Linked DNA regions of Homo sapiens. The protein of the gene in region 1 interacts with the protein of each later gene in a pairwise test. Each region holds a gene or a part of one and is shown on either strand. Other genes may lie near its edges.

The links.
Region 2: the proteins of HSBP1L1 (region 1) and TNFRSF10D interact in binary tests that used the Homo sapiens proteins (3 or more experiments, as listed by UniProt).
Region 3: the proteins of HSBP1L1 (region 1) and PBX4 interact in binary tests that used the Homo sapiens proteins (3 or more experiments, as listed by UniProt).
Region 4: the proteins of HSBP1L1 (region 1) and CMTM4 interact in binary tests that used the Homo sapiens proteins (3 or more experiments, as listed by UniProt).

What each region holds. Positions count from the first base shown.
Region 1 is NC_000018.10:79,967,636-79,971,351, reverse strand, and holds the end of HSBP1L1 (heat shock factor-binding protein 1-like protein 1), read right to left. Parts: intron 3,264-3,716; coding exon 3,169-3,263; intron 913-3,168; coding exon 901-912; 3' UTR 530-900; downstream 1-529.
Region 2 is NC_000008.11:23,153,993-23,161,028, forward strand, and holds part of TNFRSF10D (tumor necrosis factor receptor superfamily member 10D precursor), read right to left. Parts: intron 988-7,036; coding exon 882-987; intron 1-881. UniProt on the Homo sapiens protein: Receptor for the cytotoxic ligand TRAIL. Contains a truncated death domain and hence is not capable of inducing apoptosis but protects against TRAIL-mediated apoptosis. Reports are contradictory with regards to its ability to induce the NF-kappa-B pathway.
Region 3 is NC_000019.10:19,566,680-19,573,715, forward strand, and holds part of PBX4 (pre-B-cell leukemia transcription factor 4), read right to left. Parts: intron 4,193-7,036; exon of another isoform or gene 4,155-4,192; coding exon 3,907-4,154; intron 3,739-3,906; exon of another isoform or gene 3,621-3,738; coding exon 3,430-3,620; coding exon of another isoform or gene 3,420-3,429; intron 2,906-3,419; coding exon 2,770-2,905; intron 1-2,769.
Region 4 is NC_000016.10:66,630,737-66,637,772, forward strand, and holds part of CMTM4 (CKLF-like MARVEL transmembrane domain-containing protein 4), read right to left. Parts: intron 5,846-7,036; coding exon 5,669-5,845; intron 1-5,668. UniProt on the Homo sapiens protein: Acts as a backup for CMTM6 to regulate plasma membrane expression of PD-L1/CD274, an immune inhibitory ligand critical for immune tolerance to self and antitumor immunity. May protect PD-L1/CD274 from being polyubiquitinated and targeted for degradation.

The DNA.
Region 1 (3,716 bases):
TGTCTCAAAAAAATAAAAAAAGATAAACATGGTGTTACCATTTGACCCAGCAGTTTCATACCCAGGAGAATTGAACGCATATGTCCACATAGAAACTCGTACACAGAAGCCAAAATGTGGAAACCCACGTGTCCATCAACAGATGAACGGTTAAACAAAATGTCCATCCATAGAACGGAATATTATTCAGTCATAAACAGAATGAAGTACTGTAAGTGAAAAGCCAGTTACTACATATTGTGTGATTCCATTTATACGGAATTTCTAGAATAGGCACATCCATAGAGACGGATTAGTGGTTGCTTAAGACTGGGAGGGAGGGGGAAATAGGAGGTGACAGCTAATGGGCAGTTTTATTTTTGATGTAATGAAAATGTGCTTACATAAGCCGAGCAGGCATAAACAGAAAAAGTGCCCTAAGATTGTGATAATGGTACAATTCTGTCAATTGCATAATTGGTGGATGATGTGTGAATTATGTCTCTTAGGATAACAGCTTTACTGGCGTTACCAGAAAAAGATAAAATAATTACATTCCACATTTGTAAGTTTATTGTATATTTATTGTAAATGTGTTGCATATTGTATTAGTCTGCCCAGGACTGCCATAACAAAATACTTCAGATTGGGTGGTTTAAACAACAGAAACTTGTCTTTTCACAGTTCTGTTTTCTGGAAGTCCCAGATCAAGGTGCTGGTCCGTGTGATTTCTGGGGAGGGCTCTCCTTGGCTTGCCGATGGCCTCCTTCTCTGGTGCAGGCACGGAGGGGAGAGCAGGCGAGCCCCTTGCGTCTCTTCTCAGAAAGACGAATCCTGTTGGATGAGGGCCCCACCCTCAGGACCGATGTAACCTTAATGACTTCTGTAGAGGCCCCATCTCCAAATACAGACATGCTGCAGTTAGGTCTTCAGCTATTTAGGGAGACATAAACGTTCAGGCCGTAACTCCTATCAGGTGTATTAAGTATGTTCACCCCTGATTTTAATAACGTTCTCACTGGTGCTTTGTGGCTGCAGTACAGTTGAAATCATAATGATTTGGACTCTGTATTTCAAGTTTATCTCATTATGTACCTGCTGTCTACCTTGCCCTGACTTAAGTGCTTTGCAAGCAATTTTCTTAAATCCTTACAACCACTTACCAGGTAGATATTTGGCAGAGAAGAAAACTAAAGCTTAGATTTCCCCAGGTTACAGCCAGCAACAGAGGATAAGAATTTGAAACCTAGGCCTGCATGGCTGCCAAGCCTTGCCTCGTCTGTGGCACTGTGGTGCTTTAATCAAGTTGGATATACTAGTGGCTCTCTGGGTACCTAGTGAATTCTATTTCCCATCTCCCCAGGATGGCTTCTAGGCAAAGTCCAGAAATTACTTGTGGCAGCTAATGCAGGTGACAAGCCCCTAGGTACAGAATAACCAAGTCCCCTAGAGAAACTGGCAACGTGTACACAAAGAAGTAGACAAGAATAGTGCAGCATTGTTTGGAAACAATATTAGTCAAATATAAAGTAAATCATCAGAGGACTATCAGGCAGCAGTTGGCGACTGACCTAGAGCGACACGTGTCGACATGAATCTCAGTACTGAACAAAAAAGCAAGGGGCAGAAGGCTACAGAGTATGGGGCCACTGACATACTGCTTTAAGACTTTCAGAATAAACGTCTGAAGGTTATGATGCCAGTGTGTCTGCAGGAAACTTGGTTAGGTGTCTGGGGGAAGACTGCCTCTGCTCTGAGCGCACGCAGAGAAGGGATGAGGACTTCAGTCCACCAGCAGAATCAGAGCACTGCCATCTCTGCCTACCTGAACAGACCACACCCAAAAATTAAAATGCAGGGTGAATTCACGGCTCACCAGCTTTCTGACCTGGAGGTTCAGAGGATCCCTGGGGAAGCATCCGCGTGGGCACAGGTGGGAGGACCTGCTCAACGTGGGCGCTATTCTGCATCGTTTTTTTTTCTTTCTTTCTTTCTTTCTTTCTTTCTTTCTTTCTTTCTTTCTTTCTTTCTTTCTTTCTTTTTCTTTCTTTCTTTCTTTCCTTTCTCTCTCTCTCTCCCTCCCTCCCTCCCTCCCTCCCTCCCTCCCTCCCTCTCTCTCTCTCCTCTCCTCTCTCTCCTCTCTCTCCTCTTTCTTTCTTTCTTTCTTTCTTTCCTTTCTTTTCTTTCATGTTGTCTCGCTCTGTCGCCCAGGCTGGAGTGCCGTGGCACAGTCTCGGCTCACTGCAAGCTCTGCCTCCCGGGTTCACGGCATTCTCCCGCCTCAGCCTCCCAAGTAGCTGGGACCACAGGCGCCCGCCACCACACCCGGCTATTTTTTTTTTTTTTTTGTATTTTTAGTAGAGACGGGCTTTCACCATTCACAGGATGGTCTCGATCTCCTGACCTCGTGATCCGCCCACCTCGGCCTCCCAAAGTGCTGGGATTACAGGCTGAGCCACCGCGCCTGGCTTCTGAATCATTTTTTCTGTTATTTTTACTAATGGCTTTAAACATGCCTCTGATCCTAGCATTCTTTTGTGGCATGTTTACATTCAGCATCAGAAGCTGTGAGAATGCCTACAGTGCCCTGATGAGGTTCGGGTTGCACTGGGTGGCCTCAGATGCCCTGCAGAGGAGGCACTTTGGGAGGCCGAGGCGGGTGGATCACCTGAGGTCAGGAGTTCGAGACCAGCCTGGCCAATAAGGTGAAACTCCGTCTCTACTAAAAATACAAAAACTAGCTGGGTGTGGCCGGGCGTGGTGGCTCACGCCTGTAATTGCAGCACTGGGAGGCCAAGGTGGGTGGATCACCTGAGGTTGTGAGTTGGAGACCAGCCTGGCCAACATAGTGAAACCCCGTCTGTACTAAAATACAAAAATTAGCTGGGTGTGGTGGTGCATGTCTGTAGTTCCAGCTACCTGGGAGGCTGAGGCAGGAGAATGGCTTAAACCCGGGAGGTGGAGTTTGCAGTGAGCCAAGATCATGCCACTGCACTCCAGCCTGGGCGACAGAGCAAGACTCCACCTCAAAAAAAGAAGAGAGCATTTGGAAATTTATTATTCCTGAGCAGTTTTCATGCAGCACAGAGGCAGCAATTCCCATAGTGAACAAATATGGGATTGTATGTTTCAAGATGAAAGCAGTCAAAACATACGAAAACGGTTGACATAGTTTGCTAATAACCTTACCATTTGTTCTTTAATAGAATTTTCAATGCCAGCTTGCACCATTAAGTCCTTGACATTCTTCTGTAAGTCCTCAATGCGATTTCCCATTTCTTCCAGTACAGTGTTAAGGCGCTCTGCGTAGAGCTGGAGTCCAGAGCCGCCGAGGCACAGCCAGGATGTCCTCAGAGACTCCGCCTCCCATGGCACATGCAACTTTTGAAATGAGGGAATCAACGACAGGCCTAGTGTCCATGCAAATCAGCTTCTTTCCCTGAGTTTTCCTCAGTGTGTCTCTTTAACCTTTAAACTGTGAGCTTAGAAAACGTGGCTCCCCTTGCTTGGACATGGATTTGGGGACAGGAGATTGTCTGGTATATTTTAGTCAAACTCTGGGTATGTAAAAATAAATATAATGGAATTAACTCTTTTTTGTTTGTAGGGTCTTGCTCTTCCCCCAGGCTGGAGTGCAGTGGTGTGATCACAGCTCACTGCAGCCCTGAACTCCTGGGCTCAAGCGATCCTTCTGCCTCAGCCTCTCGAGTAGCTGGGACTATAGACTACCACCCAGC
Region 2 (7,036 bases), on another chromosome or scaffold:
GTAAAGAAAATGTAGTACATAGACACAATGGAATACTATTCAGCCTCAACAAAGAAGGAAATTCTGTCATTTGTGACAGCATGGATGAACCTGGAGATATCATGCTAAGTGAAATAAGCCAGGCACAGAGAGACAAACACCTCATGATCTCACATATGTGGAATCTTAAAACTTGATCTCATAGAGGTAGAGAGTAGAATGGTGATTACCAGCGCTGTATTTGCACGGTGGGTTGGAGAGATGCTGGTCAAAGGATACAAAATTTCAGTTAGACAGGGGGAAATAAATTCAAGAGATGTATTGTGTGACATGGTGACTACAGTTATTAAAACAATGTGTTGTACAGTCCTGCCTTCTATTCACAGGGAATATATTCCATGGAACAAACTCTGCACTTACACAAGTCCCTGATACAAATTGGGATAGTATTGCATACACCCCAGGTACATATGCTTTAAATCATTTCTAGGTTACTTGTAATACCTAATGCAATAGACATGCTATGTAAATAAGTGCTTTACTGCATTGCTTTTTATCTACTTTTATTGACATGTTATCATTTTCATTATTTTTTCCACATATTTTTGATCTGTGTTGGTTGCAACCACGGATGCAACACCCACAGATGAGGATGGCTACAGAACCCACAGGTGAGGAGGGCAAAGAGGGCTTATCCCAGGGCTCTGTATCCATACAGCTGAAAATTGCTGAGTAGACTTTTAAGTGTTCTTACAACAAATACACGATAAGTATGTGAATTAGCTTGATTTAGCCATTTCACAATGCGTGCATATTTCCAAACATCATGGTGTACACCATGAATATATACAATGTTTATCTGTCAACTAAAAATAAACTGATTTTTAAAAATAAGAGTGCACCTGCTGGACACTCCTCCTCCTTGAGGCTGCGCCTCTGTTGCTGTGGGGCCACTGTCTGCTGGGGAACTTCGTCCTGCCGGGGGATGGTGGCAGAGTCAACCCGGACCTGTGGGGACAAGGCAGAGATGGGCTTGAGTGGCTTCCAGACCTTACCTCTCCCAGGCTCCGTCTCACATTCCCTTCACCCCAAGTGACAAAACCCATGAGAGCCTGGACTTTTTTCCCATTCCAAACTTTCATTCTTTTGCATCCGTGTTTGTCCCCTGGCCTGTTAGGTAGCTATTTTCTATAAAGAAAAACACCTCCGTATCCTTTTATCATATTATAACATAAAATATATTTACCCCAGAAAATATGAGCAGAAGAGTTTTTTTTTTTTTTTGATAGAGTCTTGCTATGTTGCCCAGGCTAGAATGCAGTGTCTATTCACAGGTGTGATCATAGTCTACTACAGCCTGGAACTTCTGGCCTCAAGTGATCCTCCCGCCTCAGTCTCCCAAGCAAGTTGGGTAACAGGAACACACCACTGTAGTTGGCAAGAAAAGATTTTATAAGAACACAAAAGGCCAGGCGCGGTGGCTCAGGCCTGTAATCACAGCACTTTGGGAGGCCAAAGTGGGTGGATCATGAGGTCAGGAGATTGAGACCATCCTGGTTAACACAGTGAAACCCCGTCTCTACTAAAAATACAAAAAATTAGCTGGGCATGGTGGCGGGCACCTGTAACCCCAGCTACTTGGGAGGCTGAGGCAGGAGAACGGCGTGAACCCAGGAGGCGGAGCTTGCACTGCACTCCAGCCTGGGCGAAAGAGCGAGACTCTGTCTCAAAAAAAAAAACAAAAAACAAAAAACAAAAAAACCACACATATGAGCCCTTCAAGCAGAAATAGCATCTAATGTATTTAGTTTGACCAAGTGTTTAATTGACCAGTGGGTGAATATTCTCTCTCTCTCTCTCTCTCTCGCACACACACAGACACACACATAAAAATACACATTTTTACAAATGAGGGTTACAATATAACCTTAAAGAAAGTCAGGATATAGCATCAAACATTAAGTAATTTCTGCTTCACAAAGGACCTTGACAAGCTGTTCCCACTAAATATCAAAGAGTGACAGAAAAAGATAAAACAGCAATTCAGGGATTATGGCCATGATCTCTGTGTTATAAATGACGACGAGAAGACAACTGGAGAATCGGAATAGAGTCTGCATATTAGATAGTGGTAATGTGTTGATGTTAATTTCCTTGTTTGTAGAAAGTACACACTGAAAAATTCAATAATAGCTTTCATCATGCCAACAGCTATTTTTCAAATTTTTTTTGCATAGTTTTTGTAACTTTTAAGTTGGGAGTGTGTAAAAGTACAAAATTAATTTAATTGTAAATTTACATTTAATTAAATTTAATATAATCTTGCTCCTGAGAAAAAACAAAATGGTTACAATAAAAGCTACTTACCTTGGGCTCTGTTCAACTACCTGGCTCTCAGCAAGACAAAATGTAGCTTTCTTCCACATGAAAGCCTGCCTAGTAGTTGGTGACAGTGAAGCTAATGCACATTTCCCAAATCCTCCCTTCTAGAGCTGGGGTCCCTCTAGGTTCAGGCGATGTCTCTGTCACCTTTCTCTGCTCTCACACCCTTACTCCTTTTCAAGAGCAACTATTCATTTTCTCAACTCTTTTTTTTTTTTTTTCTTTTTTGGAGACGGGATCTCCCTCTGTCATCCAGGTTGGAGTGCAGTGGTGTAATCTCTGCTCACTACAATCTCTGCCTCCCGGGCTCAAGTGGTCCTCCAACCTCAGTCCCTAAGTGGCCGGGACCACAGACAGGAGAGTGCCCCAATGCCTGGGCTAATATTGGTGTATTTTATACAGCTGGGGTTTCATCACGTTGCCCAGGCTGGTCTAACTCCTGAGCTCAAGCGTTCTGCCTGCCTGAGCCTCCCAAAGTACTAGGATTACAGGCGTAAGCCACCACACACAGTCCGTTTTGTCAGTTCTTTTTGTGGTTTCTATTCTATTTCCTTGATTTATGTTCCTCCTTGTTACTTTGGTTTAAATTTATGCTTATATTTTATGATTGATTAATGTAGATCTTCAGGCCATAAATTTCACATATTTTTCTTTTTTTGACAGCTTTAACGAGACACAAATCACATAATTAGTAATTATGATTATTCATATAATTCACCCATTTAGTCTACATTTCAGTAGTTTTTTAATATACTCATAGCTATGCAATCATCACTATAATCAATCTTAGAATGTTTTTATCACTCCAGAAAGGAACTGCATACCCTTCAGGAGTAACTCCCCATCTCCCCAATTTTTTTAATAGACACATTGAAAGCTGTATTATTTCACTCCGAGCACTGTTAGCCATTTCCCACCAGTTTTGCTGTTATATTATTATTATTTATTTTGAAACATTTTACCTTCCCTTTTGATTTCTTCTCTGAACCACAGATTTTTTAGAAGTGTATTGTTCAATAACCAAATTTTAGAATTCCCTATGGATACTATTACTGACTTCCAGTCTCGTTTCATTAAGTTTAGAGGTCATATCGCGTGTTTTATATCCCAGAACCCAGTCTATCTTGGTGAAAGTATCATGAGCATAGAAAGGAATCAGTGTTCAGTGGATGTTCCACTCCTGCTCTTTAAATGTCAGTTAAGTCAAGGTGGTTGATAGTGTGCAGATCGCTTGCCACTTTACCGGGGTTTTCATCTGACCGTTCTGTCAATTACAGAGAAACAGCTGATTTAATCTCCTTTTCATTCTCTTTTTGCATCATGTGTTCTGCAGCTGTATTACTAGGCATATACAATTTGTGATTATTATTATACTCCTTGAAGAATTAACCTTTTTAACTACAAGGGTCCCTTTTGAGCTCCCATAATATTCTATGTCCTAAAATTGTTACAGTAGGCAGCTAGTCAGGTATGAGCAGGGTAGGAGAGGGCTCCCCGCTTCTGACACCAGCAGTGTTGGGCGACCATCAGGTGGTTGATAACCGTGTCTCTAAAGTAAGAACTGGTTACAGCCAATGCCAGAAAAAGGCAGTCTCCTAATACATAGAAAACACCTGAAACTGATCAGCAGCTTCCCAATAAGATTTCAGGAGTGGGGAGAAGTAAGGCAAGATCCTGGAAGTAGGCCAACCTATAAAACCCCAACTCAGGCAGTCCGGCTGTGCACTGTTTCTCAAGTCACCTGCTCGGCCATCTTTCAAGTTGTACTTTCCTTCTTTTCTTTCCGTTCCTTCCTTTCCTTCCTGTTCTAAAGCTTTTTTAATAAACTTTCACTCCTGCTCTGAAACTTGCCTCTGTCTCTCCTTCTGCCTTATGCCCCTCAGTCCAATTCTTTCTTCTCAGGAGGCGAAGAGCTGAAGGTGCTGTGGACCCATACGGATTCGCCGCCTTCAACGTAGGGTAACTCGGATCTCGTCCACCGCTAACAAAATCAACTTCATGTGATACTGAGATAGCCACGGCAGTTTTCTTGGCCTTACACTCTGCGTGGGGTATCTTTTTCCATCTATTTGCTTTCCACAGACAGCATCTGTGTCTTCCTTTTAAGGCCCATCTCATATAGACAAGATATAGCTGAGTCTTGTTTTTTCAGCCCTTCCAAACATTTCTACCATTGAACTGTAGTGCTCAGTGGATTTACAGGGAGTGCAATAATTGTTAGTCAAAATAGACCTATACGTTTACCATTTAAACTACGGTTGTCTAGTCTAATTTTTTTACTCCTTTTTCCCCTGCACATTTTAATGTTAATTACCTTTTAGAATTCCACTTTAACTGGGTACTGACTTTTTATGCATACCTATTTCCATGATCTATGTGCAAGTGCTATAGGGAATACAGTATACACTCAAGTGCTTATATTCTATTGAAGGTTTTTTTAAAATAGATTTATTGTGGTATAATGGATATGAAACAAAGTGTACATTTTTGAAGCATGTAGTTTGGTAGGTTGAGATGTACGTATACACTGTGGAACTATCGCCGCGATAAGATAATGACATGTCTACCGTCCTGCAGTGTTTCTTCATTTTTCAATGTAATCCTCTCTTCTGCTTTGCTCCTATGTCCCCAGCAATGCTTCTTCTGCTTTTTATCACAATAGATTAGTTGTATTTTAATAAGATGAGGAATCACATGGTATGCATTCTGCTTGTATTCCTTCACACGACATGATTTTCTGTGTGTGTGTGTGTGTCTGTGTCTGTGGTTTTTGGTTTTATTTTGGTTTTTGGTTTTGAGACAGCATTTTGCTATGTTTCCCAGGCCGGTCTTGAACTCCTGGGCTCTAAGGATGCACCCACCTGGGCAGGACTATACATGTGAGCCATCGCACCTGCCCACCCACCCTGGCCCATTGACTATTATCAGTTAAAGGCTACTGAAAAACAGCAGGCGCAATAAGATGCTTTGACCTCTTTTGTGTTTCCTAAAAGCAGGAGATGAAAGTCCCCAGGGAAACATAGGACGATCTCCTTATTTTTAAGGATGAGAAGTCGAGGCCAAGAGATTACTGTGCAGACCTTGTTAGAACAGAACCACTCAGCTTTTTAGCCTCCATATATTTACTAGCTTCTTCACAAGTTACTTGGTCCAATTCAATATATAAGTAACTGACTCTCACTGCTTCTCTGTGCTAGGTAAAACTTGCATTAAATAAATGTGTGTGTTGGCTGGGCATGGTGGCACACACCTGTAATCCCAGCATTTTGGAAGGCTGAGATGGGCGGATCACCTGAGCTCGACTTCGAGACCAGCCTGGACAACATGACAAAACCCCGTCTCTACTAAAAATACAAAAATTAGCCAGGCGCAAGGGTGGGCACCTGTAATCCCAAGGTACTCAGGAGGCTGAAGCAGGAGAATCGCTTGAATCTGGGAGGCGGAGGTTGCAGTGAGCCGAGATTGCACCACTGCACTCCAGCCTGGGTGACAGAACAATACTCCATCTCAAGAAAAAAGAAGTCGTACGTGCTTTTCTCCTGTGTACCTGTCTTATGTCAATTTAATTCTCAGGTCCAGCCAAAAAAAAAAAGCCCTTCAAGGGGAGCTTCGCTTCCCTCTATGACTCTCAATGGTGACTCTAACCAAACACCATCCTCCACGCCAACAATACCACATCCTATAGCCTTGCACCAACACGGCCTCTCTGGAGGAGGGGGAGGCAATGGTGGTGAGATATCAGGCCTCCCTCATGCTACCTCCTATTAGTTATATGATTCCTGGTGTCACCTCACCCACCACACTGTGGGCTCCAGGAAGCAGGATTCACATGGGGTTCATCTGTCCTCCCTGGCTCCAGCAGACTCCAAAGACAATAAAGAGCTCATTGTCTATTTCCTGGGTGACTCACTTTCCCCCCAAGCCCATGAGGTGAGCGCAGTGGCGGCCTCAGCTTACCACCTAAGGACAGGCTCCAGGCTGTGGCACAGGGAGGGGACTCCGAAGAGCCCTGTGGACTCTGCTGAGGACCCATAGGAGCTCCCAGAGGCCAAGTGCAGGACAGAGATCAGAGAAGCAGCTCCTCAGAGAACTCTAGCCCTTCAGAGGCCCAAATATGGCTGCTATTATTCAGAAGGTGAGGACAAAAATGCTGGAGACATTGCTCCTGAATCTCATTTTGCCACCTGTAAAACAGGGAAAACAACCTGCCCTCATGTCCCCTGGTTGTTAGGAAAATCCACTACACGAAGATGTACACTCTCTGGCTGGGAGCAGGATACCAGCTGCCCAACAGCACAGGCTCGGGGCATGGCACTGTCCCCACTGTCTCCATCCCCAACCTGGAAGCTAGAGCCTCGCTACCCTGCCACTCCTGGATACAGGACAGAGAACCAGAACTGGGACCGTGGCCTCTCAGTAGGGGCTGGGTGAGCAGCCATCTGCAGCCACCTGGATGGAGACCTTTCCTGCTCATCTTCAAACTCCAACCCGGGCCGGACACCCACCAGAAGCACAACTGGAAACTTGGCAGGTAAACCAGGCTGTGGCCCTGCAGTGCCATCGCTGTCCTCACTTGAACTCTGGCTCCTCTGTTCCTCGATGGCCCCTCCACATGGTGCTCCACCCCAGTCTTCAGAAGCTTCTGCCCCAAGGCCAGGGAGCCTGGTATGGAGGT
Region 3 (7,036 bases), on another chromosome or scaffold:
AAGCCTGGCTAATTTTTGTACTTTTTTTTTTTTTTTTTTTCGGAGACGGAGTCTCACTCTGTCACCCAGGCTGGAGTGTGGAGTGCAGTGGTGCGACCTCAACTCACTGCAACCTCCGCCTCCCTGGTTCAAATGATTCTCCTGCCTCAGCCTCCCCAGTAGCGGGATTGCAGGCATGTGCCACCAAGCCTGGCTAATTTTTGTATTTCCAGTAGCCACGGGGTTTCACCATGTTGGCCAGGCTGGTCTCGAACTCCTGACCTCAGGTGATTCGTCCGCCTTGGCCTCCAAAGTGCTGGGATTTCAGGCATGAGCCACCATGCCTGGCCAACATTTGGTGTACTTACATTATCCTTGCAATGTTAAGTATAAAAAGAAGGATCCCTGTCTGTGTGCTCTCTGTTCCAAACATAGTGTCTGCCTACCCCGGGGGTGTGAGCAGCCTTCTCTTGATCCACATGGGAGGCCCCAGAGGCTCCATCCTGGTTGAAGCAGCCCTGGTTGTCCTCCAGACAATTGTTCCTTGGGGGCCAAATGTCTCACGCTTCTCCAGGGGCCTTGAAGACCCAGAGGCGCAGCCCCTTGCTCCAGCTCTGGCCTTGTTTCTGACACCACAGCAGATCCCGATGAGCAAAGTCATATGTGACTATGACCTCAGGATGTTTTGCTGCCTGCGTGACCCCGAGGGGTTCCAATTGCTCTCTGTCACAGAGACTTGACTGGACTTAGCCTGGGTTGGAGCAGAGCATGGTGGTGAAGGACTAGAAACTCAGCCCCTCCAACTGCAAAGTAGGGAGGGCTGTGGTGACATGCAGCAAGCCATGCTGTGGGTCAGCACCTGCCATTCCTGCTGCCATAGAGGCTGTGGGGCTGTGCCTGCCCAGGTGGGAGGGCGGCACCCAGGCCCTGTTCCACACACTCATGCTGCCACGGGGGTATGGCCTGGACCTGGCTTGCTGCCATAGGCTGCCTGGACTTACTGTTTCCATGTTAAAACCTTCGGAAATATTTCTTAGCCTCTTGGTCTTAGTGTCTCCCTCTTTCACCCCCAGTTCCACAGAGGACACTGGTGGCTGCCTACCAGGCTATAGAGTCAGGGAGCTCACACTCTCTACCACGTCACCTCAGGGGGCTCACACTCCACAGCATCCCCCAGGGAACTCACACTCCATCTCAATCACCTCAGGGAGCTCACACTCCATCTGTATCCCTCAGGGAGCTCACACCCCACCTGTATCCCTCAGGCAGCTCACACTCCATCTGTATCTCTCAGGGAGCTCACACTCCATCTCTGTCCCTCAGGGAGCTCACACTCCACCTCAATCACCTCAGGGAACTCACACTCCATCTTTATCCCTCAGGGAGCTCACATTCCATCAGTATCCCTCAGGGAGCTCACACTCTATCTGTAACCCTCAGGGAGCTCACACTCCATCTGTATCCCTCAGGGAGCTCACACTCCATCTGTAACCCTCAGGGAGCTCACACTCCATCTGTATCCCTCAGGGAGCTCACACTCTACCAGTATCCCTCAGGGAGCTCACACTCCATCTGTATCCCTCAGGGAGCTCACACTCCATCTGTAACCCTCAGGGAGCTCACACTCCATCTGTATCCCTCAGGGAGCTCACACTCTATCAGTATCCCTCAGGGAGCTCACACTCCATCTGTATCCCTCAGGGAGCTCACACTCTATCAGTATCCCTCAGGGAGCTCACACTCCATCTGTATCCCTCAGGGAGCTCACACTCCATCTGTATCCCTCAGGGAGCTCACACTCCACCTCAGTCACCTCAGGGAACTCACACTCCATCTGTATCCCTCAAGGAGCTCACACTCCATCTGTATCCCTCAGGGAACTCACACTCCATCTGTATCCCTCAAGGAGCTCACACTCCATCTGTATCCCTCAGGGAACTCACACTCCATCTGTATCCCTCAAGGAGCTCACACTCCATCTGTATCCCTCAGGAAGCTCACACTCCGTCTGTATCCCTCAGGGAGCTCATACTCTGTCTGTAACCCTCAGGGAGCTCACACTCTGTCTGTATCCCTCAGGGAGCTCACACTCCATCTGTATCCCTCAGGGAGCTCATACTCTGTCTGTATCCCTCAGGGAGTTCACACTCTGTCTGTAACCCTCAGGGAGCTCACACTCCGTCTGTGTCCCTCAGGGAGCTCACACTCCACAGCATCACCTCTGGGACCTCGCATTCCATCTGCATCGCTCAGGAAGTCCTCAGGTCTCTCTGTGGGTACACTTGCACCCCTGCCTCACAGATGAACGGGGAGAGCGCTGGAGTCCCACATTTGTAATGCAGAGCCTGGATCTGAGCTGGCCTGGCTGACTCAGAGCCTGGAGACTTGGCTCCTGTTCCACACTTTTTTTGTTTTTCAGAGATAGGATCTCACTCTGTCACCCAGGCTGGAATGCAGTGGCGCCATCATAGCTCACTGCAGCCTCACCCTCCTGGGCTCAAGTGATCCTTCCACCTCAGCATCCGAAGGAGCTGAGACCACAGGTGCACACCACCAAGCCCAGCTAATTTTTTAAATTTTTTGTAGAGACAGTGTCTCACTATGTTGCCCAGGCTGGTCTCGAACTCCTGGCCTCAAGCGACCCTCCTACCTCATCCTCCCAAAGTGCTGGGATTCCAGCAGCCATGCCTGGCCTCTGCACACATTTAACAAACTTCCCTGGGTGTCCTCATGGGACCTAGTCATCCACTCCTCCCAGGCGTGGCGAGACGTGGCAGGAGAGAACGTCACCTGGGAGATGGTGAGGCCGCCCTTCCTGGCCAGCTCTTCTTTGGCTTCTTCGCTGGGGTAAGGGTTGTTCAGATGGGAGTAAAAATACTCATTCAGCACTTCCGTCGCCTGCTTGCTGAAATTCCGCCGCTTGCGCCTGCAAAAACAGCCGCCTTCGTAGGCATTAATATGCTGGGACTCCAGTACCACCCCCACCTCTAGTTCTGAGTATGATTTTCCAGTAGTTCTGAAAACAGCAATCACTTGAGGTCAGGAGTTCGAGACCAGCGTGGTCAACATAGTGAAACCCCGTTTCTACTAAAAACACAAAAATTAGCTGGGCATGGTGGCGGGAGCCTGTAATCCCAGCTACTCGGGAGGCTGAAGCAGTAGAATCGCTTGAACCTGGGAGGCGGAGGTTGTGGTGAGTGGAGATCGCACCACTGCACTCCAGCCTGGGCACCAGAGTGAGACTCCGTCTCAAATAAATAAATAAATAAATACAAAATAAAATAAAAATGAAAACAGCAATACTTCAGGCCTTCTTCCCAAGAGGCTGTGAGGCCTCCAACCGTGACTGCAGACACAGCCTCCAGGGCTGTCTTCAACCCAAGCCAGCACTATTTCCCTCCAGTCCCTCAGAGCCGGCCCTTGAGGTTTTGGGTACGTACAGGCCCTGACCTGGCATCGAGCAGCCGCGAACGCAGGGTCATCACTGCCTCACAGGTGCTCTGCTTCAACTGCATCTGGATGGCGCTGAACTTGCCGTGAATGGCGCCGACCATGCGCTCAATCTCCTTAGGGGAGACAGGCCTCATCCTGCTCTGCTCCTGGAGGAGGTTGGTGACGTGCGTGGTGAACTCACGACAGGCCTGGGGTGGGAGCACAGACACGCCGGCCTGTGACTAGGCAGCAGGGTGGCACAGGGCAGCAGGTTCCACAGCGGAGCAGCCGCCTGCCACCCCCTGTAGTTCACACACCGGCGGGTGACTGTTAAGTAAATGGAAAGGGCTTTCAGTAACAATGGACCACCTCTGCAGCGACCAACTGCATGGACTCCCTGTTCTGCGCCACGAAAGAAAGGTGGTTAGCGTTCCGTGTTTCGCTTTGACAAATGCGCATTCACATGACAGAAACTCTTCCATGCAGAAAGATCACCTGTTCATATTTCTCTAGCTCAGAGTGGTAAATCTGTCGGATCTGGGACAGCTTGGCCCTGTAGTCAGAGTGCTCAATGCTATTGTCATTTGGACAGCCACCTGGTGTTGCTGTGCCGGCCCTGGCCACCGCTCCTCCTCTTCCTCTCTTCTCGGGCCTGCACACGCCCTCAGCCAGCAGCATGTTATCCAGCCTCAGGAGCTGGGCGTCAGGGGGATCTTCGTCTTGAATGCCACGGATGCTTACCACTAGATAAGAGAGACCGGGACAAGTCACAATTCATTTTCTGGAGAGAAAACAAACCATGAGAAAATGTGAGCACTGGTGTTATGTCTGAAGATTTTTGCATAGAACCCTTCGGGAGAAAGGAATACTCCACTTTATCACCAAATTGGATGATGGACACTGAGCACCCCGCTAAGACATGGGTCCAAGTGCCATCCTTAGAGCGCAGTCTGGGGAGGAACGGGGAGACACAGGTCGCAGTTTGGCATAGCCTGTGAGGGCAAACCTTGGTCACAGCTGTGTGCACGCAGCAGGGCCAGGCAGGCGCCTGTTGCTGGGGTCACCTGAACCCCTGAACCGAGTCTCAAGAAGTGCTGGGGAAGAGGGGGCACCCAAGATGCTGCATACTGATAAAGGCAAGTGGCAGGCTGGCATTGGCAGCGTGGCTGGCCTGGGCCCAGGACTGTGCAGCTGTAGGCCTGTTGTGGCTGGTGGGTGGGGTGTGTGTGTGTTGGGGTGGGGGTGCTGTTATAAAACTGGATAGGAAAAGCCTGATAAAGAAAGTGCCAGAAAAGATGAAATAACCCACTGAAAGATTTTAAGCAGAGAAACAAGATAATGGGCCCTACAATTTGGAAATGCCGTCCCAGCTCTGCAGAGAGGGGACCTGGATAGGGGCAGGGCTGGACTGCAGGGGAAGCAGTCAAAGGGCAGCCACCATCAAGGTATACACAGCTGTGGGGTCTGCAGGTCAGCTACAGGGCAGTCAGAGAACCCCCAGGATTCGTGTCCTGGGACACGGGTGTCAGAGAAGGGAAGACTCCAGGGTCATTCCCAGATTCTGCCATGGGCAGCACAGCCAATGGCATCGCATTCTCCCAAGTAAAAAGCCTGGAGCTGCAGCTTGTGCAGGTGGGGCTGAGTGAAAAGGTGGCTTCACGGCCGGGCACAGTGGCTCACGCCTGTAATCCTAGCACTTTAGAAGGCTGAGGCGGGCGGATCACTTGAGGTCAGGAGTTCGAGATCAGCCTGGCCAACATGGTGAAACCCCGTCTCTACTAAAAATACAAAAATTAGCCAAGCGTGGTGGCGCCTGCCTGTAATCCCAGCTACTAGGGAGGCTGAGGCAGGAGAATCACTTGAACCTGGGAGGCAGAGGATGCAGTGAGCTGAGATCTTGCCACTGCACTCCAGCTGGGGGGATAGAGAGACCCCGTCTCAAAAAAAAAAAAAAAAAAAAGTGTTCTCTTAGAATCAGGCTTTTTTTTTTTTTTTTTTTTTTGAGATGGAATCTCATTCTGTCACCTAGGCTGGGGTGCAATGGCATGGTCTCCACTCACTGCAACCTCTGTCTCCCAGGTTCCAGTGATTCTCCTGCCTCAGCCTCCCGAGTAGCTGGGACTACACATGCGTGCCGCCATGCCTGGCTAATTTTTGTATTTTTAGTAGAGACAAGGTTTCACTATGTTGGCCAGGCTGGTCTCGAACTCCTGACCTCATGATCCGCCTGCCTTGGCCTCTTAAAGTGCTGGGATTACAGGCATGACCCACCGTACCGGGCCAGAATCAGGCTATCTTAATAAGGTCAGCTACTTACCGAATTAGTGCTCAGATGACAATTCCGTTTGATTATATCATATAGTCATTTACAAGTGTCCCTTTCTTATTCCCTACATAACAGATGAACCTTTTCTGTCAAAAACTCACTAGTCAAAACTGAAGGAACTCAAGCGATATCCTTGTAAGAATTTTCCTTAGAGATTTCCACTTCAGGCTGGGCGCAGTGGCTCACGCCTGTAATCCCAGCACTTTGGGAGGCCAAGGTGGGCGGATCACCTGAGGTCGGGAGTTCGAGACCAGCCCAGCCAACGTGGAGAAACGCCATCTCTACTAATTAGCCGGGCATGGTGTCGAGTGTCTGTAATTCCAGCTACTTGGGAGGCTGAGGCAGGAGAATTGCTTGAACCCGGGAGACGGAGGTTGCAGTGAGCCGAGATCACGCCATTGCACTCCAGGCTGGGTGACAAGGGCGAGACTCCGTCTCAAAAAAAAAAAAAAAAAAAAAGAGATTTCCACTTCAACACTTAGTGCTAGTTTATTAAGCACACATGCAACAAATTTTATAAACCAGGATTTTGAACAAGAGACAAAAAAAATTAGCAACCAGATCCAAGGACTGACCACAAACCTGGTGCTTAATACAGGATAGTGTTGGCCAGGCGCAGTGGCTCACGCCTGTAATCCCAGCACTTTGGGAGGCCAAGGTGGGTGGATCACCTGAGGTCAGGGGTTCGAGACCAGCCTGACTAACACAGAGAAACCCCATCTCTACTAAAAATACAAAATTAGCCGGGCATGATGGCACATGCCTGTAATCCTAGCTACTTGGGAGGCTGAGGCAGGAGAATCGCTTGAATCCGGGAGGTGGAGGTTGCGGTGAGCCGAGATCACGCCACTGTACTCCAGCCTGGGCAACAAGAGCGAAACTCCATCTCCAAAAAAAAGAAAAAAAAAAAATATACACACACACACACACACACACACACACACACACACACACATATAGGATAGTGTCCCACCTTCTCCAAAACTGTTTCTTACTCAATTAAAATTGGAAAAAGCAATATGAGAAAAGTGGGAAGATTTCAAGAAGAATCCACACACCCTGTTAAACTTTCAAGGTAGAATAGATGGCGGCACAAAGTTGCAGACATGCAGAGACTTAACCACAAGTCTCCAGTACCCAGGCAGCGAATGTCCATGGCACAAATTAGTCATGCAAATTAGACATAAATTTGTCTAATTTGATAATAAGAACATAAACTATAATAGAAACAGCCAAAATAGCTAATACATGAGATTGGTTAAGTAAATTATGATAGAACCATAAAATAAAGCCGCCAGC
Region 4 (7,036 bases), on another chromosome or scaffold:
TGCAGCCTCTGCCCGGCCGCCCATCGTCTGGGATGTGAGGAGCCCCTCTGCCTGGCTGCCCAGTCTGGAAAGTGAGGAGCATCTCTGCCCGGCCGCCATCCCATCTAGGAAGTGAGGAGCGTCTCTGCCCGGCCGCCCATCGTCTGAGATGTGGGGAGCGCCTCTGCCCCGCCGCCCCGTCTGGGATGTGAGGAGCGCCTCTGCCTGGCCGCGACCCCATCTGGGAGGTGAGGAGCGTCTCTGCCCAGCTGCCCCGTCTGAGAAGTGAGGAGACCCTCCGCCCGGCGGCCGCCCCATCTGAGAAGTGAGGAGCCCCTCCGCCCGGCGGCCACCCCATCTGAGAAGTGAGGAGCCCCTCCACCCAGCAGCCACCCCATCTGGGAAGTGAGGAGCGTCTCTGCCCGGCAGCCACCCCGTCCGGGAGGGAGGTGGGGGTCAGCCCCCGCCCGGCCAGCCGCCCTGTCCGGGAGGGAGGTGGGGGGTCAGCCCCCCGCCCGGCCAGCCGCCCCGTCCAGGAGGGAGGTGGGGGGTCAGCCCCCCGCCCGGCCAGCCGCCCGGTCCGGGAGGGAGGTGGGGGGTCAGCCCCCGCCCGGCCAGCCGCCCCGTCCGGGAGGTGAGGGGCGCCTCTGCCCGGCCGCCCCTACTGGGAAGTGAGGAGCCCCTCTGCCCGGCCACCACCCCGTCAGGGAGGTGTACCCAACAGCTCATTGAGAACGGGCCATGATGACAATGGCAGTGTTGTGGAATAGAAAAGGGGGAAAGGTGGGGAAAAGACTGAGAAATCGGATGGTTGCTGTGTCTGTGTAGAAAGAAGTAGACTTGGGAGACTTTTCATTTTGTTCTGTACTAAGAAAAATTCTTCTGCCTTGGGATCCTGTTGATCTATGACCTTACCCCCAACCCTGTGCTCTCTGAAACATGTGCTGTGTCCACTCAGGGTTAAATGGATTAAGGGCGGTGCAAGATGTGCTTTGTTAAACAGATGCTTGAAGGCAACATGCTCCTTAAGAGTCATCACCACTCCCTAATCTCAAGTACCCAGGGACACAAACACTGCGGAAGGCCACAGGGTCCTCTGCGTAGGAAAACCAGAGACCTTTGTTCACTTGTGTATCTGCTGACCTTCCCTCCACTATTGTCCTATGACCCTGCCAAATCCCCCTCTGCGAGAAACACCCAAGAATGATCAATAAAAAAATAAAATAAAATAAAATAAAATAAAAAAACACAAGACGAGTCACGCCCTAGGGCTCAGGGCTCAGCCAGTGGCCCCTGTGGGTAACTGCCAACTGTTCTCAACCCACCACAGCACCCAGCCTGGGTTCTGAGATAGAGGCCTAAGAGGCCTCCAGGGCCACAGAGCCCACTAAGAAAGGGTGACCAAAGCGGAAGAAGAAAAACAGGACAGTGTGGGGGCCCAGGATGCAAGGTGAGAGAGTATGGCAGGAAGGACAGAGTGCCCCATAGCAGACACCACCAGGATGTTGAGTGGGGTGAGAACCCAAGAGCAACCAGAGGATCTAGGAACACGGAGGCCCCGTCCCAGGCTCCTGACCAGGGGACTTTCAATGCTGCCAGACTGGAGTGGGCTGAAGATGAATTGCGGAAGACCACCACATAGTCAGGATGGTGGACTGGGGGAAGGGGCAGGGGGTGTGTTTAGCTGGAAAATACACATGGGAAGCTTTTGGGGTGTTGACAATCTCCTATTTATTGACCCAGGTGGTGGCTGTATATTAAACTCCATATTTACTTTCATAATTTTTTCAGAATTTGACAATAAGAGATTAGAAAAGTGAGATTAGGAGAGGGGGAAGTAGAGAAGGCAAGTGCAGACCTCCTCTTCTGGGAAGTGGGGCTGAGCTGGCCCTGGGCTCTGGGGCCAGTTGAGTGGGAGCCACTGGCAGGCTTTTGGGATGGGGGAGGATCAGACACGCCTTTTAGATAGCGCCACATCCCAGAAGGGAAGGGGAGGAAAGGAGGAGCCCCGTGGCACTAATCAAAGTAAACAGGGGTGGAACATGTGAGTGTATGAGCTCCTAGGACACAGAGAAAAACAAATATCGCCAGGCACGGTGGGTCACGCCTGTAATCCCAGCACTTTGGGAGGCTGAGGCGGGCAGGTCACCTGAGGTTGGGAGTCCAAGACCAGTCTGACCAACATGGAGAAACCCCCTCTCTACTAAAAATACAAAAAAATTAGCCGGGTGTGGTGGCACATGCCTGTAATCCCAGCTACTCGGGAGGCTGAGGCAGGAGAATCGTTTGAACCTGGGAGGTGGAGGTTGCGTTGAGCCAAGATTGTGCCACTGCATTCCAGCCTGGGCAACAAGAGCGAAACTCCGTTTCAAAATATATATATATAAATATATATATATATAAATATATATATATAAATATATATATATATCAAAGTCCCACAATCCATCCAAAAATAAACCCAAACCAAAAACTTGACATTAACAGAATCATTCAAATTCCATCAAATTATGCTTGTAGAAAATTATGCACTGTCCTCCTTATTTATCATTTCTCATCCATATTTATGTCAACCTGGGCTCCTGGAATGACCTGTGTTTTTAAATCTATACCAATCACACCCTATTTTAACCATCAGGCTGGCTCTGCTGGAGACAAAAATACTCCCAATACTCCCACCACCTTGTTACAGAAACACAACACAGCCAAGGCCAACCCTTCTGTAGCGAGTTGATGAGCTGAGATCGGCCGTGAGGAGCTCACTTTTTCACCCCTCTCAGAGAACACTGGACATGAGCTGCCTTTAATAGATACCATCTTGGCAGGGTGCAGTGGCTCACGCCTGTAACCTCAGCACTTTGGGAGGCTGAGGTGGGCAGATCACCTAAGATCAGGAGTTGGAGAACAGTCTGGCCAACGTGGCGAAACCTCGTCTCTATTAAAAATACAAAAATTAGCTGGGCACGGTGGCACATGCCTGTAATCCCAGCTACTCAGGAGGCTGAGACAGGAAAATCACTTGAACCCGGGAGGCAAAGGTTGCAGTGAGCCGAGATCGCACCACTGCACTCCAGCCTGGGCGACAGAGCAAGACCCCATCTCAAAAAAAAAAAAAAAAGGTACCATCTCCTCAAGTTCATGTAAGGTATATGCCCTTTTGTTGGGCAAACACACAGCCTTTATCTGCTCCAAAAGAGTGGAAAGTCTAGAACGGATCCCAAAGAACAGGATCGTGTTCTCAAGTGACCACATCACCAACACCCAACCACAGGCCCAGGCCACCACCACCCAGAGGAAAAGAACGAGTATCAACTTCCCTGGGGAGAGATGCACCTCAACATGACCGGTGACATGGTAGTGTGGTAGTCAACAAGTGGAAAATCTTTCATGATTAAAATAGAAAAAGCAGAATTCCAGAAAGCTCACTAAATAGGTATTTCTGGGCTGGGTGTGGTGGCTCACACCTGTAATCCCAGCACTTTGGGAGGCTGAGGTGGGTGGATCACCTGAGGTCAGGTGTTTGAAACCAGCCTGGCCAAGATGGTGAAACCCCATCTCTACTAAAAATACAAAAATTAGCTGGGCATGGTGGTACATGCCCATAATCTCAGCTACTAGGGAGGGTGAGGCAGGAGAATCGCTTGAACCCGGGAGGCGGAGGTTTCATTGAGCCGAGATCACGCCACTGCACTCCAGCCTGGGCAACAGAGCAAGACTCTGTCTCAAAAAAACAAAAAAAAAAACCCAAAAACAACAAAAAGTAGGTATTTCTGGGGATAAACGCTGGTATAAATTAGTAAGAAATCTGAAGCATGAAGTCTTTTAACAGGTTAATGGCTGTCAGATAAATGGACAAAACAGAATTAAGGGGGTCAAGTCAAACCTGGTGGAAGTAAACAGGGGAACAGTGTGGGTAACATAACAGCAGCGTGCCAGGACACCTCTTACTCAGGTGAGATGAACATTGCTGCACTGGCCACAGCGCCCACTGGTTTGAGGCCTTACCAGATGCCTTTACACCCATTACCTCATTTTATACTTAAAAAAAAACCCTGCAAAAAAAAAAATTATTATCTCCACTTTACCAGTGCTGACACTTCACCAATGTAGGGCTCTCAGTGACTAGCCCAGGGTCATGCACAGCCTGTTTCAGCAGCTACCTTGGACTTGAACCCAGCTCGGTCTGTCTGACTCAATGCCTATAGTCTTAACCTTTCCAGCAGCTGCTTCTTTGTCAAACAGGTCCTCCCGCAGGGTTTCACAGCCCAGCCCCTTACTCAACAAGTATTTATTGACAGGCCTCAGGAACACTAGGCAAGTAGGATAGCAATGAACAAGATGCTGACCTTGACCTTGACCCTGCATCCATAGTATGAGCATTTTAACTGGGGGAGGTTTGCAAAGTTCTCTTAAACAGTCTACTACATGCTCTGTAAGCATTTTCTTATGGATAACATAAACCTCATTTTAAAAATAGTTGAGACATTACAACCTGTCACAAAAACTCAGACAAAATGCTTCTAGTTATCTTGAGGTTTTAGAGCTTAAATTTAAAATACCACCACATTTTTCTCAGCTTCCAGTGCTAAGACAAAAAACAGCTAAGTTTTCAACTGATATCTACTTTTCTAGATCAGCAACTCTCCTTTTTTCCTCCTTTAGGAGTCTGTGCTGGTTAGGACAACCCAGAGAGCACCTGTAAGGAGGACCTTCCCCACCCAGGGCACACCAGGAGAGCAGCCCTGACAGGGAGGTGGCAGCTCCAGCCTCCTCCTTGGGGCCCACACTTTCTCATGGGCCCAGCAGCAGCCAAACACAGACAGAGCCACGTGTGGCTTCTGTGTGGCTCCCAATCTCAGGCAAGGGTAGCTGGTCTGAGGCGCTCTCCTCCTGCTTCCCCCTCAGCAGCTGAGGTGCCCACGGCGTTCTCATCCCACAGGCACAGCAGTGTGAGGCAGCCGACTGTGCTTACGTGGATCTCCCTGACTGACTCCCTTTGAGCTCTTGCACATGCTAATTTGTAAATAAATATCAAGAAAACCAAATGATATTAAAATCCTCTTCTCATTCAGCACAGTAAGGACACAGTCTAGGAAAGGGGGTCTAGGACTGACCAGCCCTGTGCTTCCCATCTGATTAACAAGGGTGGCCAAACAGAGCTAAGAACCCAAACCATGGGGAGAAGGGGCAGGTTTCCACTCAAGACTTTCTGATCAAACCACCAAACCCCCCCAGGTCCTCCTAGTTGCTTTGAATTTAATAATATTCCTAGGCTCTGTAAGTTACTGGCATTTTCATTCATATTTTCAATTCTTCCAGAATCAATATTTTTATAAATGGCTTTTAGGTCCAGTCTGAAAAGTATGTAAATGTCTACACTGTATTTTATTTCCCATATTCTCCAAATATCAACATGACCAGTCTTCTCAGATGATTGCAAAATTGAAATGACATCTTTAAGGTGGCCAAAATAATTGTTATGATGTTTCTCCCATTAGTTAAGATTCAGTTTATTTTGTAGTTTTACTTAACCCAGTAAAGAAATTTAAAATTTCACAGTTGAATTATAATAGAATATTTAAGGATCAAAATGAACTAGAACCAAACATGACCTGGAGAGATTCCAGCTTTTCCTTGGAGCCAACAGGCACGTGATCCTTTCATGGCCAGAGTGGCCGCTTGTACTCACTGTCAGATTCCAGTTGATCTGGGGGATCCTCATGTGCAGGTTGAGACTGAACATAATCAGCAAGACGCCAGTCACCACAAACGCACTGCAGCTCACAAACTCAAAAAAGTAGAGGCCTTCACACGGGGAGCATGCCATGATGGTCTCTATGCAGATGAATGCAATCAGGGCCAAGATCTAGGAAGAAAATTGGAAACATATATGTACGTATATGTTTAGTATACATCTGCGGACATACGTACCTGCCATGCTTATATAACACTGAACAACAACATACTGCCACTGAGTTTTCCTCTGGGACAGCAGTGTAACTGTCGGAAATCAGACCTGCTTCAATTCTTACCTAAAGAATAGGTGCAGGGGTCTTAATGGAAGGATCAAATTACTAATGTAAACAGTGAAGGCCCCACCACATACACTGAAATCAATCTGGTGTGATGTGGCCCCCGGGTGTAAACTGCTGGCCCTTGGGAGGAAGCAGAAACATCTCTACAATGTTTCTAGGTCTTCTCCTGCCACCAATAAGTAAGTGGGTGTTGCCTATGTGTGTTTCTAATTCATGGTCTCTACCACAATTATCCCAAACACTGGGAGAGCAGAATTCTGATGGTGTCTGACTTGTGCCATCTGCAGTTACCTTGGTGGCTCCTGCTAAAGTCACACAGGTTAACTGGGACTCCTGACGGCTTTAAAACAATGATTGGTATAATCTCCTTTTCCCCCAATTAGGTGGGAACAAGAGGCGCACCTAATTAATTCATATGGTTTTAAAAAATATATTTTTTGAACTTGATCACAACAAGATGGCAGCTTATTAAAAAACATTAAGAAATCTACCAATAATAGAATAAATTTCTAGGCTGGGCACGGGGGCTCATGCCTGTAATCCCAGTACTTTGGGAGGCCAAGGTTGGCAGATCACCGGAGGTCTGGAGTTCAAGACCAGCCTGACCAACATGGAGAAACCCCCTCTCTACTAAAAATACAAAATCAGCCGGGTGTGGTGGCGCATGCTTGTAATCCCAGCTACTCAGGAGGCTGAGGCAGGAGAATCGCATGAACCTGGGAGGTAGAGGTTGCAGTAAGCTGAGATCGCGCCATTGCACTCTAGCCTGGGCAACAAGAACGAAATTCCATCTCAAAAAAAAAGAATAAATTTTTTTCTGAAGGACCAAAGTACCATTCTGGCAATATGTCCTAAGAGTTCATAGATCATAAAATCAAATAGATATTGATAGAAATTACCAAGTGAACTTTTAAAGGGGGATTTCAGGAGAAGGAGGAGGCCCAAAGGCGGAGTTAATGGCCCTGTGATCAAAGAAAGGTTTCGAGCACCTAAAGCCAGATCAGTCTCAGGCTCCCGCTCCG